Regions from separate parts of the Homo sapiens genome. Here region 1 is linked to region 2. Evidence: fine-mapped expression QTL. A gene starts in region 2. The other region holds a variant in brackets. All regions are shown on one strand. Distances are from middle to middle. Region 1 overlaps LINC02626 (long intergenic non-protein coding RNA 2626). Region 2 holds the start of ATRNL1 (attractin like 1).

Evidence for each region. PIP is the estimated chance that this variant, and not a neighbour inherited with it, causes the effect.
Region 1: its variant is fine-mapped to the expression of ATRNL1 in skeletal muscle (GTEx, PIP 0.92).

What each region holds. Positions count from the first base shown.
Region 1 is chr10:114,994,810-115,004,255 of GRCh38, reverse strand. It overlaps LINC02626 (long intergenic non-protein coding RNA 2626), which reads right to left. Exons shown (of 3, transcript NR_120677.1): 2 at 8,718-8,813; 3 at 7,663-7,781. Among named protein-coding and RNA genes, the nearest start is that of LINC02626, 4.9 kb to the right of the region's middle. The variant C/T (reference allele first, on the strand shown) is at 3,921.
Region 2 is chr10:115,088,585-115,098,030 of GRCh38, reverse strand. It overlaps ATRNL1 (attractin like 1), which reads right to left and starts at 4,666. Exons shown (of 29, transcript NM_207303.4): 1 at 3,988-4,666. The coding sequence starts at 4,280. RefSeq lists silencers at 4,096-4,375, 4,466-4,595, 4,626-5,135.

The sequences.
Region 1 (9,446 bases), 94 kb after region 2:
AAGGAGAAAAGGCGACCTGGCAAAGATGGAAACATCCTTGAGTCAGAAGCCCTTCTTGTGAAAGCTGCCAGGATGTATTCAGTGGCCCCTGAGTCCTTCCAGTGAACCAGTTTCTGAGTAGGAGATGATGACAGCCCTTTCCTAGCCCTTTGCAGGTTGGTGTGATTGCTCTGCAGAGAAGAGGACCTGGCAGGCTTTCGGGCCCCTGAAGGTATTCAAACTTCAGTGCCAATAAATGGACGTGGAAAAGCAGCCCTGGGGAACCAGAAGAGTTGAGGTAGAGCTCCTCTATCAGCTGGCAGTTCAGAGGCTGTTTCCTCCAGAAAGCCCTCCCTGGTCCCTGGTCTGGGTAAGGCAGCTCTGAGTTCTTGCAGCTGCAGCCTCCTCCACCTCCACGTGGATGAAGTTTCATTAGGCACAGCTCTTCCATCCCACCTGTGTGCTTCCTGGGTATGGACGATGTGTGTTTCACCTCACGACCCTTTGGAGTCTAAGTCCAGGGACCATATCACCCATTGCTAAGGAAGGTCCTCCTTCCTTCTAGTTTTTGCTATGCACCCATGTCCCTGTTGCGTACATACTATCTAACAATGCTGTGCTTGGGCATTGCTTTCAGGAAGAGAGGAGTCAGCATGTTCTGTGGAATGTTATGAAGAATCAAAACAGTTAACAGTTTGTCACTGGCATGCAGTCAAAAGATAAGACATATTGGAGAAAGAATCTGTTACAAGCTCTTTATTCTAATAGCCAATTAGACTTAGAGTGAAATAAGAGACCAGAAACTGGATGACAAGAAGTGAAGACTATTCAATAACAATTAGGCATGAGATAAATTCTGAGATAGAGAAATGAATAATTTGAAAGAAACATAACATCAGCTATACTGAACATATTTTTGTAGGAATAAGAAAGGAACCAGGGAATTTTCCAAAGATATTTGATTGTTAAAAACCTTACTTAGGTGTACTACTTCCAAAATGAATAAGAAGATAGAAATGAAGGCTTCAGAAACAAAATACAGGATCTGAGAAAACAGGCTGGGCACGGTGGCTCATGCCTGTAATCCCAGTGCTTTGGGAGGCTGAGGTGGGTGGATCACCTGAAGTCAGGAGTTCAAGGCAAGCCTGGTCAACATGGCGAAACTCTGTCTCTACTAAAAATACAAAAATTAGGCATGGTGGTGCATGCGCCTGTAATCCCAGCTATTCGGGAAGCTGACAGGAGAATCGCTTGAACCTGGGAGGCAGAGGTTGCAGTGAGCCGAGACCACAGCCACTGTACTCCAGCCTGGGTGACAAAGTGAGACTCTGTTTCAAAAAAAATAAAAATAAAAAGATCTGAGAAAACATAATCAAATACTTCTCTGAAGAATTTCAACACTGAAATGGCCTCTCTTTTGTCACACATGGCTAAAAAATCTCCTTATATTGGGTTCTGAAGCATTTTCATGGAGCATGATCTGTGAGTTACTATACACAGCATCATAAATGCAATTGTTGACATTTTTTAAAGGGAAACAAGCATATCTATTCTACCAGGTTTGTGAAGGAATAGAAACATAAAGGCCAACCCTTTAGCTATATCCATACACGGGGTTCATATTCTGCATGAAGAGCCTATTAACTTTTGCATATTTAGGGTCCCCAGTCAGAGCTTCCAGCCTTTTTTGCAAAGTTTGGTTGGGCAATGCTGTGACCCATTCCAGCATCTACCATCCCACCTGAGAAAAGGTGGTCATTGAGATATGGCAATTGTTCTTTTATCCAGTTGGGTGAGGCCATTGAAAATGTGGATCTTGTTCTGAAGCTCTCTAATTTCATGTTTGAAGCACAAAGCTTGGGCCTTGGCTGAGCAAACAACCTCAAGAGGCACTATGGCAACCTTGGCTTCCATAAAATTGTTTTTCCAAGAGAGTGGAAGTGGATGCCCAATGTCTTGTAGCTCCTTTGAGTACCAGGTGATTCTAAAGAATCATTTGCTGTTTGACCCAAAGAAACGTGACTGCCAGAGGGAAGAAAGCCAATTGAGCTGAGAAAAGCAGTATTTAAAGACCAAGGCAGGAAATGAAGCAGTGAGCAGTTGCTAGAGCAGCAGCACCTGCGTATGATGAGCAAAGTATCTGACCACTGGCACATCCGTAGCCAGCTCTGTTGAATCCCCTATTATAATTCTGATTTCTCTCACTCAGTTCAGGGATTTGGAATTGGGCAGCCAATTCTGTGTTTACCTTGGTAGTAACACTCCTGCATATGCAGTAGTGTCAGGAAGTGAGTATTGTTACAAGCAGAACATCTGGTGGAGGAACATATTATCAATCCTGTAATAGATAAAAGAACCACAATCCTAAACCCTCAAATTCATTTTTTGGCTTTCCTGAGAGAACTGAGAATTGTGGGTAACCTTGAGGAGGGAAGGAAACAAGCTTCACTGAAGCTGGGCTCATTTTCAGCTGTCAGTGGAAAAACACAAGGCTGCACCAGTCTCCGCTGAAACTCTCAGACTCGGCCAGTAGTTGTTTTCCAGCTTCTTGTTACCTTTGAAATCCAAACATTTTCGATTTCTTCCTTTCTGCTGTGCCAGCAAGACGGAGCTAAGTGAGACAGTTTGCACCAGGAAGGCGCCACAATTATGCACTGTGTCACCACCGGACACGCAGCTGGGGAATGTGCAGGGCGCCTGCAGCCGAGGGGCCAGAGTGTGCTTTTGAAGACGTGATCATAGCCACTTTCAGTTCATCTTGCCTTAAATCAGTGGACAAAAAGAGGCAGCTGACACTCCGCTTGTAAGGGATAGTAACACCATAATAAATCACATTTTTTCTGTGCCAGTTTTCTACCTTGCCCTAATTTCATAGATGAAATCACATGTGTAAAACTGACTTTGCAATTTAGCTCTGAAGTCCAGAAAGGCTACCCAGGGAGCACCGTGCCTTTTTTTATACTTATTCCCTGATATATTAAATCACCTAGAAAGCTGGAGGAAAAAGCTCTCCTGCCTGAGCAAGTGCAAGGAGGGTGCCATCTGAAGGATAGTCCAACATTGTAAAGCTGAGTGCAAGTGGAAGACCTAGGAGTAATAAGAATAACAATTATCATCTTTCTATTTTTAACCTCAGATGCAGTGAGTTGATTAATTTACACTCCTCAGTTCATGGCACATTTTTATTGTTACTCCTTCTGATTCCTACTCGTTTCATGTATTTGTTTAGGTTCCATTACAGCTTACGGACTTACCCCCACTCCAGCCACCACCCCATAGGGTAACCGTTCGAGTATGTTTAATATACATGTATCTATTTGTATGTGTTCTTACAAATTGTGTAAGCATATATTATCAATTTACATAATGGTACCGTGTTATGTATCTTTCCCTTTCCTTTTTCACTCAGGTCGGTTTTTAAGATCCAACTTTGTTGCCATGTGTATATTGAGTCTATTGATTCTAATTGCTTCAGAATACTCCATGACTCTTATCTCTTCATTAGGTGATTACTATATGCCAGATTCAGTACTAAGTGATTTAGGTATATTGATAACTTGGATTACCAATAACATTGAGAGTGTGAAGCATTTGTGTTCATCAAAAGGGATGTGAGTTTCTCAGAAGGCCTAAGAGACCTGGCTCTCTGGAGGTATTTTCTTTCTTTCTTTTTCTTTCTTTTCTTTCCTTTCTTTCTTCTTTCTTTTTCTTTCTTTCCTTTTCTTTCTTTCCTTCCTTCCTTCTCTTCCTTCCTTCCTTTCTTTCCTTCTCTCTTTCTTTCTTTGTCTCTTTCTTCTTTCCTTTTCTTTTTTCTTTTTTGTTTGTTTGTTTTAAGAAAAGTCTTGCTCTGTCGCCCAGGCTGGCATGCAGTGGCGCAATCTTGGCTTACTACAACCTCCACTTCCCGGATCCAGGCTATTCTCCTGACTCAGCCAACTGAA[C/T]AGCTGGGATTACAGGTGCCTGTCACCATGCTCGGCTAATTTTTGTATTTTTAGTAGAGACGGGATTTCGCCATTGGCCAGGCTGGTCTCAAACTCCTGACCTCAGGTGATCTGCCCACCTCGGCCTCCCAAAGTGCTGGGATTACAGGCGTGAGCCTGCCTCTCTGGAGGTATTTTCAGGGGCTAGATCGCCAGCCACTTTACCAGCTCACTGTCTCTGCTGTCATGGGTCTCTCTCTTCTGTACAGTGACTTTCCCTCTGCCTTGCTTTCCTTTTCACATCTGTCTGAACAACTCCTAATTTGCTAGCCCAGGGGGCTCCTTATTTTTTTTATTAATTTTTTTCGGTCCCAGTCTTCTGTGAGCACCAGTCTAGCGATTTAAAGCATGAGCTCTGGGATCAGCCCATCCGGGTTCAAATCCTAGCTCTACGTTAACCAGTTGGTGTAACCTGAGGCAAACTGCTTAATCTAGCTGCACCTCATATCCTCATCTGTAAGATGGGGATGATGACACCTACTCTATAGGGTTGCCGTGAGAATTAAACAGGGTGTTACAGTGCCAGGCATGCAGTAACTGTTCAGTAAGTATTTTTTACTTTTCTGGTCCCTTTGCCTGGAATAACACATATACCAAACAAATCTTGCAAATAATTTCAAAAGGTATCTAAAATTGCTCTTTTTTAAGGTTACCAACCTTAAAATTCAAATTCAAGTTCTCCAGGTCCAACGATTACCCTTCTGTTCCGGTCCTGCTACTTCCTTCAGCAGCACTGGCCAGCCCCCACTTTTTGAAAGTCTTTATCCCGTGAGTCCCAGGAATCTACTCTTTCTGGGCTTTCCTCCTGCCTCAGAGGTCCGATTTTGAATGACTAAGGACCCAGAAGCCATTTAGCTTCTTTATCTACGCTCTCCCTGGAATAACCTTCTTATCCTGTCCCCTGGGTTTAAACATCAGCCACACACTGATGAATCTCAGATCATCAGCCCCTATCTCTCCCTTAAGCCTTGAGCTCACCTTAAGGGCCATCCATCGGATATCCAGCACCCGTCAAACCCAGCATGTGCACAAGCAGAGTCTTCATTTCCTCTGGACTTGCAAACTTGCCTCTTCCGCAGTCTCACTTACCTCTGCCAGTTGTGCGGAGAATAGACTCATGCAGGGAGAGAAAGGAACTCCCCGCAGGAGTCCAGGAGAGAGAGGTTTGTGGCTTGGACTGGAGTTGTGGCAGCAGAAAAGATGAGCAGTGGTCACATAACCAGATTCTTTGGGCAAGGGATGGGGTGAAGATGCAGACTAGGAGCCAGGAGCCAAAACTCCATGTACGCGAGACAGGCAAGGTTAAGACAGAAACAGTAAATTTCACATCAAAGACTGTTAAGGGCAAACTACAGGGAATGTTATGGGGACCCAAAAGAATGTGTGTTTTGCTACTTACCATTGCATAGGTACAGGGAAAAGAAGACTCTTTATGAGACAGTTTTTAGGGAAGATGGGTTACAAAGTGAATGGTATAATGCAGAATGTTTATGTATGTATATATGTGTGTATATGTACACACATTATTATATACACACATATATACATATTTATGTCTATATACACATATATACATATTTATGTCTATATACACATATATACATATTTATGTCTATATACACATATATACATATTTATGTCTATATACACATATATACATATTTATGTCTATATACACATATATACATATTTATGTCTATATACACATATATACATATTTATGTCTATATACACATATATACATATTTATGTCTATATACACATATATACATATTTATGTCTATATACACATATATACATATTTATGTCTATATACACATATATACATATTTATGTCTATATACACATATATACATATTTATGTCTATATACACATATATACATATTTATGTCTATATACACATATATACATATTTATGTCTATATACACATATATACATATTTATGTCTATATACACATATATACATATTTATGTCTATATACACATATATACATATTTATGTCTATATACACATATATACATATTTATGTATATATTTATGTATATATGTGTGTATATGTACATACATATATACATACATAAATACATATATATGTATCTCCCATTTTAATTTTTAAAAATTATAAGATATTTCAAACATGCAGAAAATTCTCATGTTACAAATCTTCTTACACCTACCACCTGGCTTTAATGTATGCACCCTTTTAATGGCACCTACCTATGTGTATTAGTGTTTCTTCTCTTTCTCCTCCTATATTATAGAGAGGTGCCTGAAGGCAGGGGCTTGACCTCCTCTTTGTGTCTCAGGAGCATCTTGCACAGCGTCTGTATACCTTAGACCCCCTAATTGTTGCTGAATTGAATTGAGTTCTTGAAAGACCTCAAAGAGGCCTTCAGGAAAAAGGAAAGTGTAGCAAGCAGCACATACGATTCTCACAGATTTGAGAAGCTGCAGCTATTTTTAAGGTGTATTAATTCAGAAGGAATTACTGGAAGTGAAAATAGGACAGCTGCATCTTGTGGCATATAACATTGAAAACTTACTTCATAGACTGATATCCTTGACTAATATTTCTGATTCCAGAATTAAAGCCACAGGCAACCTGAATCCCAGCTTTCCACGATTTCTGTGCCCTCCTACAAATGATAAGTTTATTTATTATGAAAGATCTTTAGCTGATAACAATTTACCATCAGCTACATCAGGTGCATTAGACGTTTATGCCCTTTGTCGAGTCCCAGTGGTTTTGTCTTCTGCCCTGACCTCCCTTTACCTGCTACAAATGCAGGAAAGTGTTGTACTGCCTGAAATATTAGAATTCTACCATATTGCTCCTTGGCACAGAGCTACCTCAATGACTTACCAGAATTTCCAGAATTCAAAGAAGAATTTGCTATATACCAAGGTAAATGAGACCTTGGCAAGCTTTCTAGCTAGTGGTAATGGCATCTGGCTTGCCCTGGATGGTCCCAGTTGTAGATCAGTGAATTATTCTCAGCTTCCTCTTCACTCTCAAAAGTGTCTCTGGGCCAGGCATGGTGGCTTACGCCTGTAATCCCAGCAGTTTAGGAGGTCGAGGTGGGCGGATCACCTGAGGTCAGGAGTTTGAGACAAGCCTGGCCAACATGGTGAAACCCCATCTCTACAAAAAACACAAAAATTAGCTGGGCATGGTGGTGGGCGCCTATAGTCCCAGCTACTCAGGAGGCTGAGGCATGAGAATCGCTTGAACCCGGGAGGCGGAGGTTGCAGTGAGCTGTGATCACGTCACTGCACTCCAGCCTAGGCAACAGTGAGACTCGATCTCAAAAAAAAAAGTGCCTCCGGTTTAGCTCATAAATTATATGATCACTCTATTAATCCCCCACCTAAACTTTTTACATCATAGTACCTGCCTTCTGTGGATGGGACTTCCATTTTTTAAATTTCTGCAGTGTCCCATTAAGTGGATTAAATAAAAGCCTTTGATTTGTTAAAGGAAGACACACTAGACATCACAAACCACTCTTTATTTTTGGCATTCCGCTTTCTGAACATAACACAAACCAAAATAACCCGAGATGTTACCATGATGAATCATGCCGACATGACATAGCTGCTTTCCATGGGGAAAATGTAAACCATCAAAAAAAAAAAAAACCAAAAAAAAAACAATAAGACTAAAATTTAAATTACACGGTAAAAAATGTTCAACATTTATAGTCCTGGACCATTTACTGAATTTAATTGAAAACCAGCTTAAATTTCAAAAACAGCAACAACAATTCAGGCTGCCTTTTTTTATTACACATTGGATTGCTCCTTGTCTCTTCGCTTCATCTATATCGGGTCAAAAAAAGAAAAAGAAAAAATAATAATACAACACTGGAATCATGTGAAGTTATAACAATATTTTCAGCCCAGCAATTTCAGCCCAATTTTCAGCAGTAATGTTTCATTAGAATCAAACATTTCCTAGATGGTTTAAAAACACAATGAAAATCTGGCACTTTGAGAGCTTGTGTGAATACAGCTTTAACTTCTTATTTTCAAAGAAAAATGAGATTTAACATTAAAAAACTAAAGCAATGCCCCTGAAGGTTCTTCCCTTAAAAAAGAAAGGAAGCTCAGCCTGCTGTACACATTAAATAATTAAAATCAATGATCCTTTTAAGCCTTTAGCAATGCATGAACCAATAGGGAGAAGCAATCTAATACTTCATGCATTTGGGGGATTGCATTAGAAAGACTGCTAGTCTGCTTCTGCTTTTATAAATGCAAATGTATGCAGAGCAGACAGATTGGGATCTGTACAATTTAGCAATGATCGAAACTTGTAATTTTTGAAAATGGGACAGATGTCCAGTCTAGTTATATTAAGATGCTTCTTATTGAAGAAGAAACCAAACCAAACAAACAATTCAATGCCACCTCCTCTTTTAACCGGAAACAAATAAACAAAGGCATCACAAATTAGAAAAAGTTATATACCATCTTGTTTCTTTCATGGATTGTTAAGTTGAGAGGCAGCTTCGGGTAGTGGAATAAACATTTCCAGCATGTATCACTGCATTACTCATCTTTCTGTCCCTAAAACACAGGAATGAAGGGAAATATTTCCCCATTCAAGGACCGGGGTGGGCTTAAGTCTAACTTCCAGAGTAGCCAGGTCTCTGGTTCTGTAGACTATGCTCTCCTTGAACCACAGACAGGAAGGCAGCCCAGAGTCAGGGCAGTCAATAAATACATGCTGAATGAAAGCCTTTGTTTACTCACTGAAAGTTGCTGAGTGCTCGTCATCTTTTCACGTTTGTAATATCACAGCTCCAGAGGTTTATTTCATGATGGCGAGTGCCTAGAATGTGCCACAAACTGGGGAAATAAAGGTGAAAACATGGCATTTACTCTTGAAGAGCCCGCAGTCTGGTGGGAAAGCCAGATAAGTAAATATACGATTAAGATGAGTGCTAGCGGCTGGGCATGGTGGCTCACGCCTATAATCCCAGCACTTTGGGAGACTGAGACGGGCGAATCGCCTGAGTCCAGGAGTTCAAGACTAGCCTGGGCAACACGATGAAACCCCATCTCTACAAAAATTACAATAAATTAACCGGGCATAGTGGCACGTGCCTATGGTCCCAGCTCCTCGGGAGGCTGAGGTGGGAGGATTGCTTGAGTCTGGGAGGTAGAGGTTGCAGTGAGCTGAGATGGTGCCACTAAACTCCAGCCTGGGTGATACAGTAAGACTCTGTCTCATAAATAAATAAATAAATAAATAAATAAATAAATGTACAAAGGCAGGCAGAGAGGCAACTAGAAGAGTGGGAGGCACTGAGTTTACAATAATTCAATCAAATCTTCATTAGGAATGTCTACGTGTGAGGTATGTGGGGCACAAGGGATGGAGTCCCTGTAGGTGCTAGGAGTTCAGGAAGGGGAATGACATCCAGTTGTGCTTCAGAACAATCACTCTGGAGGCGAGGCAGAGGAGGATGGTGGGGGTTA
Region 2 (9,446 bases):
ACTGTCAGTTTCCTTACAAGTAAAAAGGATTCCAAATATATATGTATTTACATATGCATATATATATATTTGTTTTTTGTTGTTGTTGTTTATTTTTGTTTTGTTTTGAGACGGAGTCTCGCTCTGTTGCCCAGGCTGGAGTGCAGTTGCGCGACCTATGCTCACTGCAACCTCCGCCTCCTGGGTTCAAGCGATTCTCCTGCCTCAGCCTCCTGAGTAACTGGGACTACAGGTGCGTGCCATCACACCCAGCTAATTTTTGTATTTTTAGTAGAGACGGGGTTTCACTGTGTTAGCTAGGATGGTCTCGATCTCCTGACCTCATGATCCGCCCGCCTCGGTCTCCCAAAGAGTTGGGATTACAGGCGTGAGACACCAAGCCAGGCAATATGCATATATTTTTAACAGCTTAGGGGAAGAGTTTACACACTTTATTCTGCCCGTTTTTGTCTATAATAACAACCTAATTCCTGACATTATATCATTACATCTTCATTTTGCTGTCACTACAAATAGAATGCTTCATATATGTATATATAAATTTTTAAGAAGAGTCTCGCTCTGATACCCAAGCTGGAGCGCAGTGGCGTGATTACAGCTCACTGCAGCCTCAACCTCCTGAGCTCAAGGAATTCTTCCGCCTCACTCTCTCTTGTAGCTGTGACCACAGGTGTGTGCCACCATGCCCAGCTACTTTTAAAATATTTTTTGTAGAGATGAGGTCTCACTATCTTGCCCAGACTGGTCTCAAACTTCTGGGCTCAAGGGATCCTTCCACCTCGGCCTCCCAAAGTGCTGGGATTACAGGCCTGAGCCACGGCACCCAGCATACTTCCATTTTAAATGCGTGAAATGAAGTATCCAAATTTGACTAACCTAAGAGGGGTAAAAATATACCCCTTTATATTTGACTAATATAAAGAGCAATACTCTTTATATTTATATAAATTTATATAAATCTCTACTCTACAAAATTAATTCTCAAGGGCTCCCTTCTAAAAGAGAACGTCATTCAAATAGATTATAGCAGAATATTTTCTTGCTTAACATTACACTGAACTATTCAAATAAATACAACTTGAATTAGAGTCTGTATCTTTGATTATTATATTTCAAATATATTTTCCTATTCTCAATCCCAAGTCCTTTAGTCTAGCTTTGGGTGAAAAATCAATGTTCCTTTTGTTTTACCTGTGTAAGGAAGGAATGGCTTGTTATTCTGAGTGCTTTATTCTTTTCAAATGGAAACAGAAGACTGGAATCAATGCTAAGAGAACTGAAGTACCACTTTTGATACTATATTTGCTTCTGCATTTCTTCCCCCAACTATCAATCTTCTATCCTCAAGAAACATTTGAAGAACATTTTTATTCCCTGGCGAAATCCCTATAGTAGAAAAAAAGCTAAGTTACCATGGAGCCAACCAATTAATTTTGACACCTGCTTACCAAGATTGATCAATCATTTTTAATGTCTGTTTGTAAGGTTGCTATCCTTCAGTTTAGAAAAAGATTTTCAAGATAGTTAGTGAAGTGAGATTTTCTAGTTAAAGCCTTTCCCACTGTGTTATTACTTCAAATGCCAGGTAAAACAAGCTACTATCTTCAAATAAACCTTTCATAGGTTTATTTGCATGTACTTTACCAAGAAGAATTCTTTTCTACTATACATAATCCTTCTCTTTAACATTAAATACCAATGTGTTCTTTATCCCCAAGAGTATACATAATAAAAACACAGATCGTTACACCAGTTATATTTACTCTAATTAATAGCTTGTATTCCACAGAGAAATGCAAAAGCATTTACCCAATAGAGTACAATGAGTCCTAGGAAATAATAGCTTCCAAGGAAAAGATGAATACTCAGTGATTAGCTCAGGATTTATTGTTATTTAACAATATCTACATCAAATATCTATTCTTCTTCTACTCACTAATGTATTTTGTTTATGAACACCACCTCTCAATGTTATTTAAGCTAGTTTTAACTTGATCTGTGATCTTTTTAACTGGGACAACATCTGCTAGTGAGGTCACAGGCTGCTGATCCAGCTGATTAACAAGTTCCGCTACTTTAAAATGAAGCTTCTCAGGACTGCAGCAAATTTTGTCCTCTTTAGACAAACGGAGCAAACCCACCCACACAAAAGCCAATATCCCTACATATAAATCAGGCACTCTCCCTATTTATGTAAAAAAAATGTAAAAAATGGATGAGGCTTTTTCACTGCTGACTACCAGTTTACATGTTCAAAATTCTCTCTTGCTAGGTAAAGACGCTGAATTCTACTGTCATAGCAAACGTTTAAGAACACAAGCAAAAAAAAACAACTAACAAGCAGAATTCATTAAGATCTCTTTCCTCATCTTGAAACACTTTTTAAACTTTTAATCAGCATCTCTCCTAATTTTTTTAAAAAGTATTTTTAAAACTACATTACTATACTACCTTTAAAGTATAAACCCTAGAAAAATTTCAACCTATTGCATAAGTTTCATAAAACTTCACTTTAAGATTTCACTTCCAAAACCTACTAGTTAATTTAAATCATAGACTCTACCTAAAATTTTAAAGTGCCATTTTAAAAATATACATTTTTACATTGAGTTTTAAGGGACATTTATTTTAATCAGTAATAGTAAGTTTTTTTTTAAAAAAAAAAAAAAAGGAAAGTATGCTGTGTTTAAAATTCCAGGAAATTGTCCTAGAATACATTAATAAGGTGAACCAGTCTTACCTTTGCCTTAGAGCCCAAGAGAAATTTCACCTAGATTTTGGCTATCAGCCTAACAATATCAGTAATCTACAATATTCAAGAGCCACAAACCAGCCAGCAAACTTCATATTAAGTATCTAGAAGACTAAGAAGCTGACTTTCTTAATGACTGTTACCTGCATGTTGTTAGAAGCCTGCCCCAATATTAAGTGACTTTTGCTACTCCCCTACACTGTGACCCATTGCTTTTTATATCAGGCAAGAATGTAATAAACACCAACCAGTACGAAGAAAGTACCTTCACCTTAGCAAGCAAACTTCTTAGGCTCCTTGAGCTTCAAACAAGCCAAAGCGATGTTCCCGCACAAAAGCTGACAGTGAATTAACCGATCAGAAAAAAATCCATTATCCTCACCACATAAAAACGTCCTTCTATCTAACCTAAAGTCACCTTTGTATTTCTCAATTCAAGATTGTCCTAGCAAATACAACACAGCAAATTCGTTAAAAGTACACATTCTGGAGTGTGTACTGGCTCCAGAATGTGCCAGCTGATTTGGAATCATAACTCGGCCCTTACTACTGTGTAATCCTGGCCAAGTTACTTCAATGTATCGCCTCGATTTCTCTCCGTAAATCCAGCATAATAATTCTAGCAACTCACAGAGTTGTTGTAGGGAATAAATGAGAAAATTGACATAAAGCGCTTAGAAGAGTGTTTGGCACTTAGCAAGTCCATCATAAACTCTACTTATTAACATCACTATGATGACTAAATAAATGTTAGAAGGGGTCACCTCTAGAGAGAAGAGAATGGGGAAAGAGAGAGGCACTCATAGATCATAACTGAACCTTTACACTTTTGTGAATTTTTCACAATGCGCATGTATTTCATAAGTAACTTGGACAATTTCTGATTTTTAAATATTATCCCAAGAAAATGGTGCTGGGCATCATAACTGATTGTGAAAATGTTCGTGCTGAGCAGCGGATCAGAAGTCGCTGCGGACATCTGGAACGCTCGAGAAATGCCTAGCTCCCCGTTGGTCAGGGCTCCGCGCGGGCCCGAGCTCTCCCGGGGCGCCCCGGGGCTGGAGGGGGCGCGGCGCGGGCCCCACTCTCGCCCGCTCCCGCCGCGCGCTGAGGTTCACTCACGGCCGGGGGATCAGAGGCAGCGACGGGGGCGGGGGAGGCCGCGAGGGGGGCGGGGAAGGCCGCGACGGGAGCGAGGCAGGGCTGGAGGTTCGGGGTCCGGCGAAGGCACTTACTTGAACCTGCCCTGGCAGTGCTGGCACTGGTCCCCCACCCAGCCCGGGTCGCAGAGGCAGGTGGAGTTGACACAGCGGCCCGAGAAGCAGGAGCCGGTCCTCTCGCACGGCTTGGACTGGGACACCTGCGCGTAGAGCGCCAGGTAGAGGAAGCCATAGCACAGCAGCCAGCTGTTCCCGTCCAGCAGCCAGGAGGAGGCGCCCCCGCCGCCGCCGCCCGCCGGCCGAGCCCTCCACACCCCCGGGGCCGCTGGCTGCGGGGTACCAGTGCGGGCCCGGCCCCCAGTCTCCATCTTCCCCGGCGCCCCTGCCCGGCGAGACTGCGCTCGCGGGCGCCGACAGGGATGCTGTTGAAGGGAATTCCGGCCGCAGAAAACCTCTCCGCCGCCGCTTCTCCTCCTCCTCACCGGCGCCCGTCCGAGTCCCGCTCCCCGGTCAGGAGGGACAGATCCCAACCGCCGTCGCCTCCGCTCGGCTGCCTCCAGTCGCACTCGGGCATCGCCACCCAGTCTCCCGACCTTGTCCTTAGCGGGCCGACCCCACAGCCGCGGCGTCCCGGACCCGGCCGGAGGCGGGGAGCGGGAGGCGCAGACTGCGCCCGGCGCTCCTGAGGGGACCTGACCGGCAGGAGGAGGGGACCCCGCGCGCGGCCCCGCCTCGCCCGCGGCCCGCGCCAACTGCCTCGGCTCCGAGCGCCGCGCGCCCAGGAGGGCGGGGGCCGAGCGGGCGCCCCGAAGTGGGCGCGCCCAACGTGGAAGGGGGCGATCAAGGAGGCGGCGGTCAGCCCCGCCTCGCCCGCCCGGCGGTCAAGGGCGCCCCGGCAGCCATTCTGTCTCCGGTGCCTCGAGCCGGCCGCAGCGGCAGCGCCGGGAGCCCACGATGCGTGGGGCCGCCCCCCGCCCTCGCGCGCGCCTACACTCCTCCCCACAGGCCCGGCGCCTTGGTCTCGCCCCGCCCCTGACAGGGACCGGGGACTCCCCCACGCGCGCGCGCCCACCCCGCCTGGCCCGCGCGCTGACTGGAGACAGGCCCCCCAGGTGTGGCCCGCGTGCCCTTCCCCCCGGCCGGTGCGGGCACCCCGGCCCCACCCGCACCCCGCGCCCCGGGAGCCCCACGAATGAGAGATCGACACAGGCTTCGCAGCTTCAGCAGAAAAGAAGTCCTTCCCGTCCGCCGTCTGCAGCTGCAAAAGTGCAACGCTTTTTCCCTAGCGCTTCCCCCTTCCTCCGCCCCATCCTCCTGCCTATTTCTTCTTTTTCTCTTAAGAGAGAAAAACTCCAACAACACACAAAGAGCTGAGCATGTGCAGCAGGCAAAAGCCTTAAAGGCACCGCAGTCCGACCACGTTGTGGGGTCAGCGAGGGCTGGGAGGGGCGGGGATTGGGGACTGCGAGAGGCGCGAGGCGGTCTCCGCGGAGGGACCTCCGAGGGGGAGCCATTGCTGCCTCGGGAATAACGAAGCCCGCGCCCCCAACAAAGAACTGCGAGGCTCCGAGCCCCGCGCTCTCCACCCCTTACAGACGCTGCCTCGAAACCGCACGTCTCTCCTTTTCTGCTTGTCAGTGCTCCCTCCTCCATCTGGGACGATATTCTGCCTTGAAAAATATTGCAGCATCGGGGCTTTTTTTCAGAAGAGCAGAAGTGATGCCCACAAAAGGGCCGTTTTCCTTCCTCAGCAGCACTTTTTCTTCTTCAGATGACTTTCCAAGATTGGCTGGCATATTCTGAGATTTTTGTTTTGTACTTTGGTGCCTTCTCTAAACAGTTGCCTTTTTATTTGACCCCCTTGAGAAAGGAAGCCAAACACACATTGCAGCCATATATCCTCGAGTTACAGCAATGTTGCTGGAGTCCCACCAAAGAACAGGCAGTATGAAAAAGAATTCAAAATCCACCAAAGGCACTTCTCACAGAAAAAAAAAAAAAGAAGAAAGAAAAGTTTGTTGTAACTACATAGTCAAAATATTATTGTTAGGATTCAACTCGTGTTTATTTCGCGTCAGTTCTTTTCATGTCTCTTATCCCCACTTGCAGATGAAATCCTCCATTAACCCCATTTTGCAGATGAGAAAGAGCAACTCAGAAAGGTTGAAATATTGGCCAATGGCAGGTTAGGAGTAATGAACTGAGCTTTAGACACGAGGCCTCTGACTGCTGTGCTTTTTTCACTGCTTCTATTAGCAGATGCTTTGTTCTTCCTTCGGTGAATAAAATATACGTGTTGGCTTGGTTTAAAAATACCTCAGCAGTGACTTAAGGAGGAAAAAATAAAAACAAAGATCCAGAAGGAGTTGGCTCCTTCGCAAGGAAAAGAGCAAAAGGAAAACCACGATTCTCGTTGGCATACAGAACAAATCATAATTTCCATAATTTCAGGGTTTTACCAGTATCAAAAATGTCCTTATCAAACCTAGAATTAGGATGCCCTCTTCTTCCCTTAACATCTTTTCCACATCAGGCTGCCCCTTAGAGACTTCTTGAAATGAGTGAAGAAGCAGAGGAGAGAACACTGCAGACACCAGTTAAAAGGAAGATCCTGTTCTGGATCACATCTTTTCATTTCAATGACTGTGAAATCCAGAAGAATTCTTTCTAGTGTCAGCCATGCATGAACACTGTCTGCTGCTTTTCCATTCTTCTCCATCTGCCAGCCAAAGTCAGCCGCATCTTTCTCACATCTAAGGTAGAGTCGCTTTCAGACGTGGGGAAAGTGGCCAAACTCTTAAAACCGTCAGTGAGTGTGAAGGTAATTCAAAGGGTGCGCTGTAGTCCCTTTGACGAGAGAGATCACAGCTCAGTCACATACTGACTGTAGCCTGTATTTGAGCAGAGCTTGCCCATTAAAAATATACTCATAAGTGGGAGTTGAACAATGAGAACACATGGACAGAGGGAGGGGAACATCACACACCAGGGCCTGTTGTGGGGTGGGGGGCTAGGGGAGAGATAGCATTAGGAGAAATACCTAATGTAGATGACGGGATGATGGGTGCAGCAAACCACCGTGGCACGTGTATACCTATGTAATAAACCTGCACGTTCTGCACATGTATCCCAGAACTTAAAGTATAATAATAATTTTAAAATACATATCTTTTAATTGAATAACCACTATAATCAGCTCAGTACTTCACATTACACTGAAGAACATGCAGCCCCACGGGCCTCCTCTCAACATTGCCTTTAGAATCAAGCTGAATATATTAAATTTATATGAATTATTCTCACAAGGATCTCAGAATTTTCACTCACCTTGTATTTTGTTTCTCTCTCAAACACTTTTAGTCAACACTTACTGAGTAACTATTATGAATTTAAGCAAGAGAAAACAAATATGAATAAAGCATGATTTCTACCCCAGATTAGCTTATCTTCTATCAAGCTCACTAGACTGTGAGCTCATTATACAGTTGAGTGTCATATACTTTACAAATGTAGACACAGAAAACTTAAATTATTTTATATGGTCACACAAAAACTCAATGGCAAAGTTTGCCTAGAATCATGAGTTATGTTTCAGTACCTTCTATGATCAAGAAATGTTAAAGCTCCAACATATTTTCTTTTTTTCCAATTAAGTAGGGTCAGCCTCCTAGAAGTGCTATATCATACTGAAATAATTAATAGTATTGGTAATAGCAGTCATAAATCTAGCAAAAAGGTGAAAATTTACTCCAAAGCCATACTGGGGGAAAATTCACCCTACGGAAGTAGGATGAAACTGTTAAGAATTATCTATTTTAAATTCATCCAAGGGGAAAGATAAGAAAAGACTATTTGTTTTCTTTAGCCTTATATCAGGACCGTTAGATATTTTGAGGTGTATGTTTCATTTCCATTCATACTACTTAACAATGATGTTATAATATGATGGGCAAAAATCTGACATCACATCACCAGATTGTTTAAAGGAAATTTAAGTGATTTTTTAAGAGAACAAGAGAAATGATAGATCCAATATCTTTTGATTGCTACTCAAAAAGTAAAAGATCCTATTTGGGCTAATGAACCAAAGCAGACTCTTTTCAGTTGCTTAATTTAAGAATCTCTGTTCTCTGGTTATTGTTCACCCTTTGGCTTATATGAGGCTTCTGAAAGCAACCAAGATAATGAGAACTACAGATAGCGTGGCCTCAAAAGCTAGAAATGCATTCACTCAAAGGGACCCACAGCGAAACTGGGGCAGTATTCTTAAGACACAAATAGATGATGAATGGTCTGTAACGTTAGACAGTTTAAAAAAACAACCATCAAATTTAGGTACTTATTAAAAAATTATTGATGATATTTAAAATGTTTATATGGCTATGGATCTGAAACACCACCACCGTCCCAATCAAAATCTAACATTCTGCTTTCTCTTGGATTCATTCTTTTCTTCCATCGGTTTCCCTTGCTGTCACAGTTGCAAACACACACATACACTTCTGCCAATTTTTCTACTTAACACATTTCAAACATATTGTTATAAGTAAATCCAAGGAAATAAATCCAAAGATTATAAATTCACTATGCTGGGCTACTACATTCTTTTTTAGCTGGGAAATAAAATGAACATCCTTAAACTTTTAATCCTAAATATTCAGTCTTGTCACCAAAAAAAGTTGATTGCTAATAGCCAATTGCAGAAACTTGTCTTTAGTGAAATCTAATTCAATAAAAATATGGGCTAGGGCTTCCTGATAAACAAAGTAGATCAAGTATGTGCATTTACCTCTGCTCCCTCTGGAAACTCTGCCAACATGATAGGAAAGGTTTTTGTTTTTTGTTTTTTCTTTTAATTTTTTTCAGGTATAAACTCACAATGATAAAGAAAATGAGAAAACAGCCAACTTGCAGATGAGAGGTGACAAGGCATTTGGAAGTGTCAATGAAGGAGAAAAGTGAATTGAGACGTAATAACTAAAACATACACACCATCAGAGATAAGTAACAACAAGAAACAAATCTGTTTCTCCCAAAGATCCCCAGAAAGCCTCAGGACTCAGATGCAAGAGTTACCAGGAAGGCAGAGGTGGGGCTCTAGGATAAAAATAAGGGGAATGGTTGAGAGCAGAATAAGGACCCATACTCTCCCTCTCATCCCAAGAAGCTAAACACTACCCCAAACCCAGCCCTGACAGAGGTTTAATCTCTTGAGAAATTGAATCAGAGGCTCCAGACTTGGAACACCAGGCAAGGTAGAAGGAGGGAGTGAAGTATACAGCTGGAACTTGAGAGACTAAGTGAAAATCTACATAATGAATGATAAAATTTCCCTGCCATCTTTTCCTCCGGTTCCCAGAACATCAATAATCAAATGAATAACCCCCAGACAGAAAACTGAAGGATATTTATCTGCAGACGTTTAATGGTTCCAAGACAAAAGATACTGTCATTTGGCATCTTCCAACCAAATGAAAATCCAGCTTCTGGATCACTATACAGTGAAGCCTGATAGTTAATAAGCTTTGCCTAAT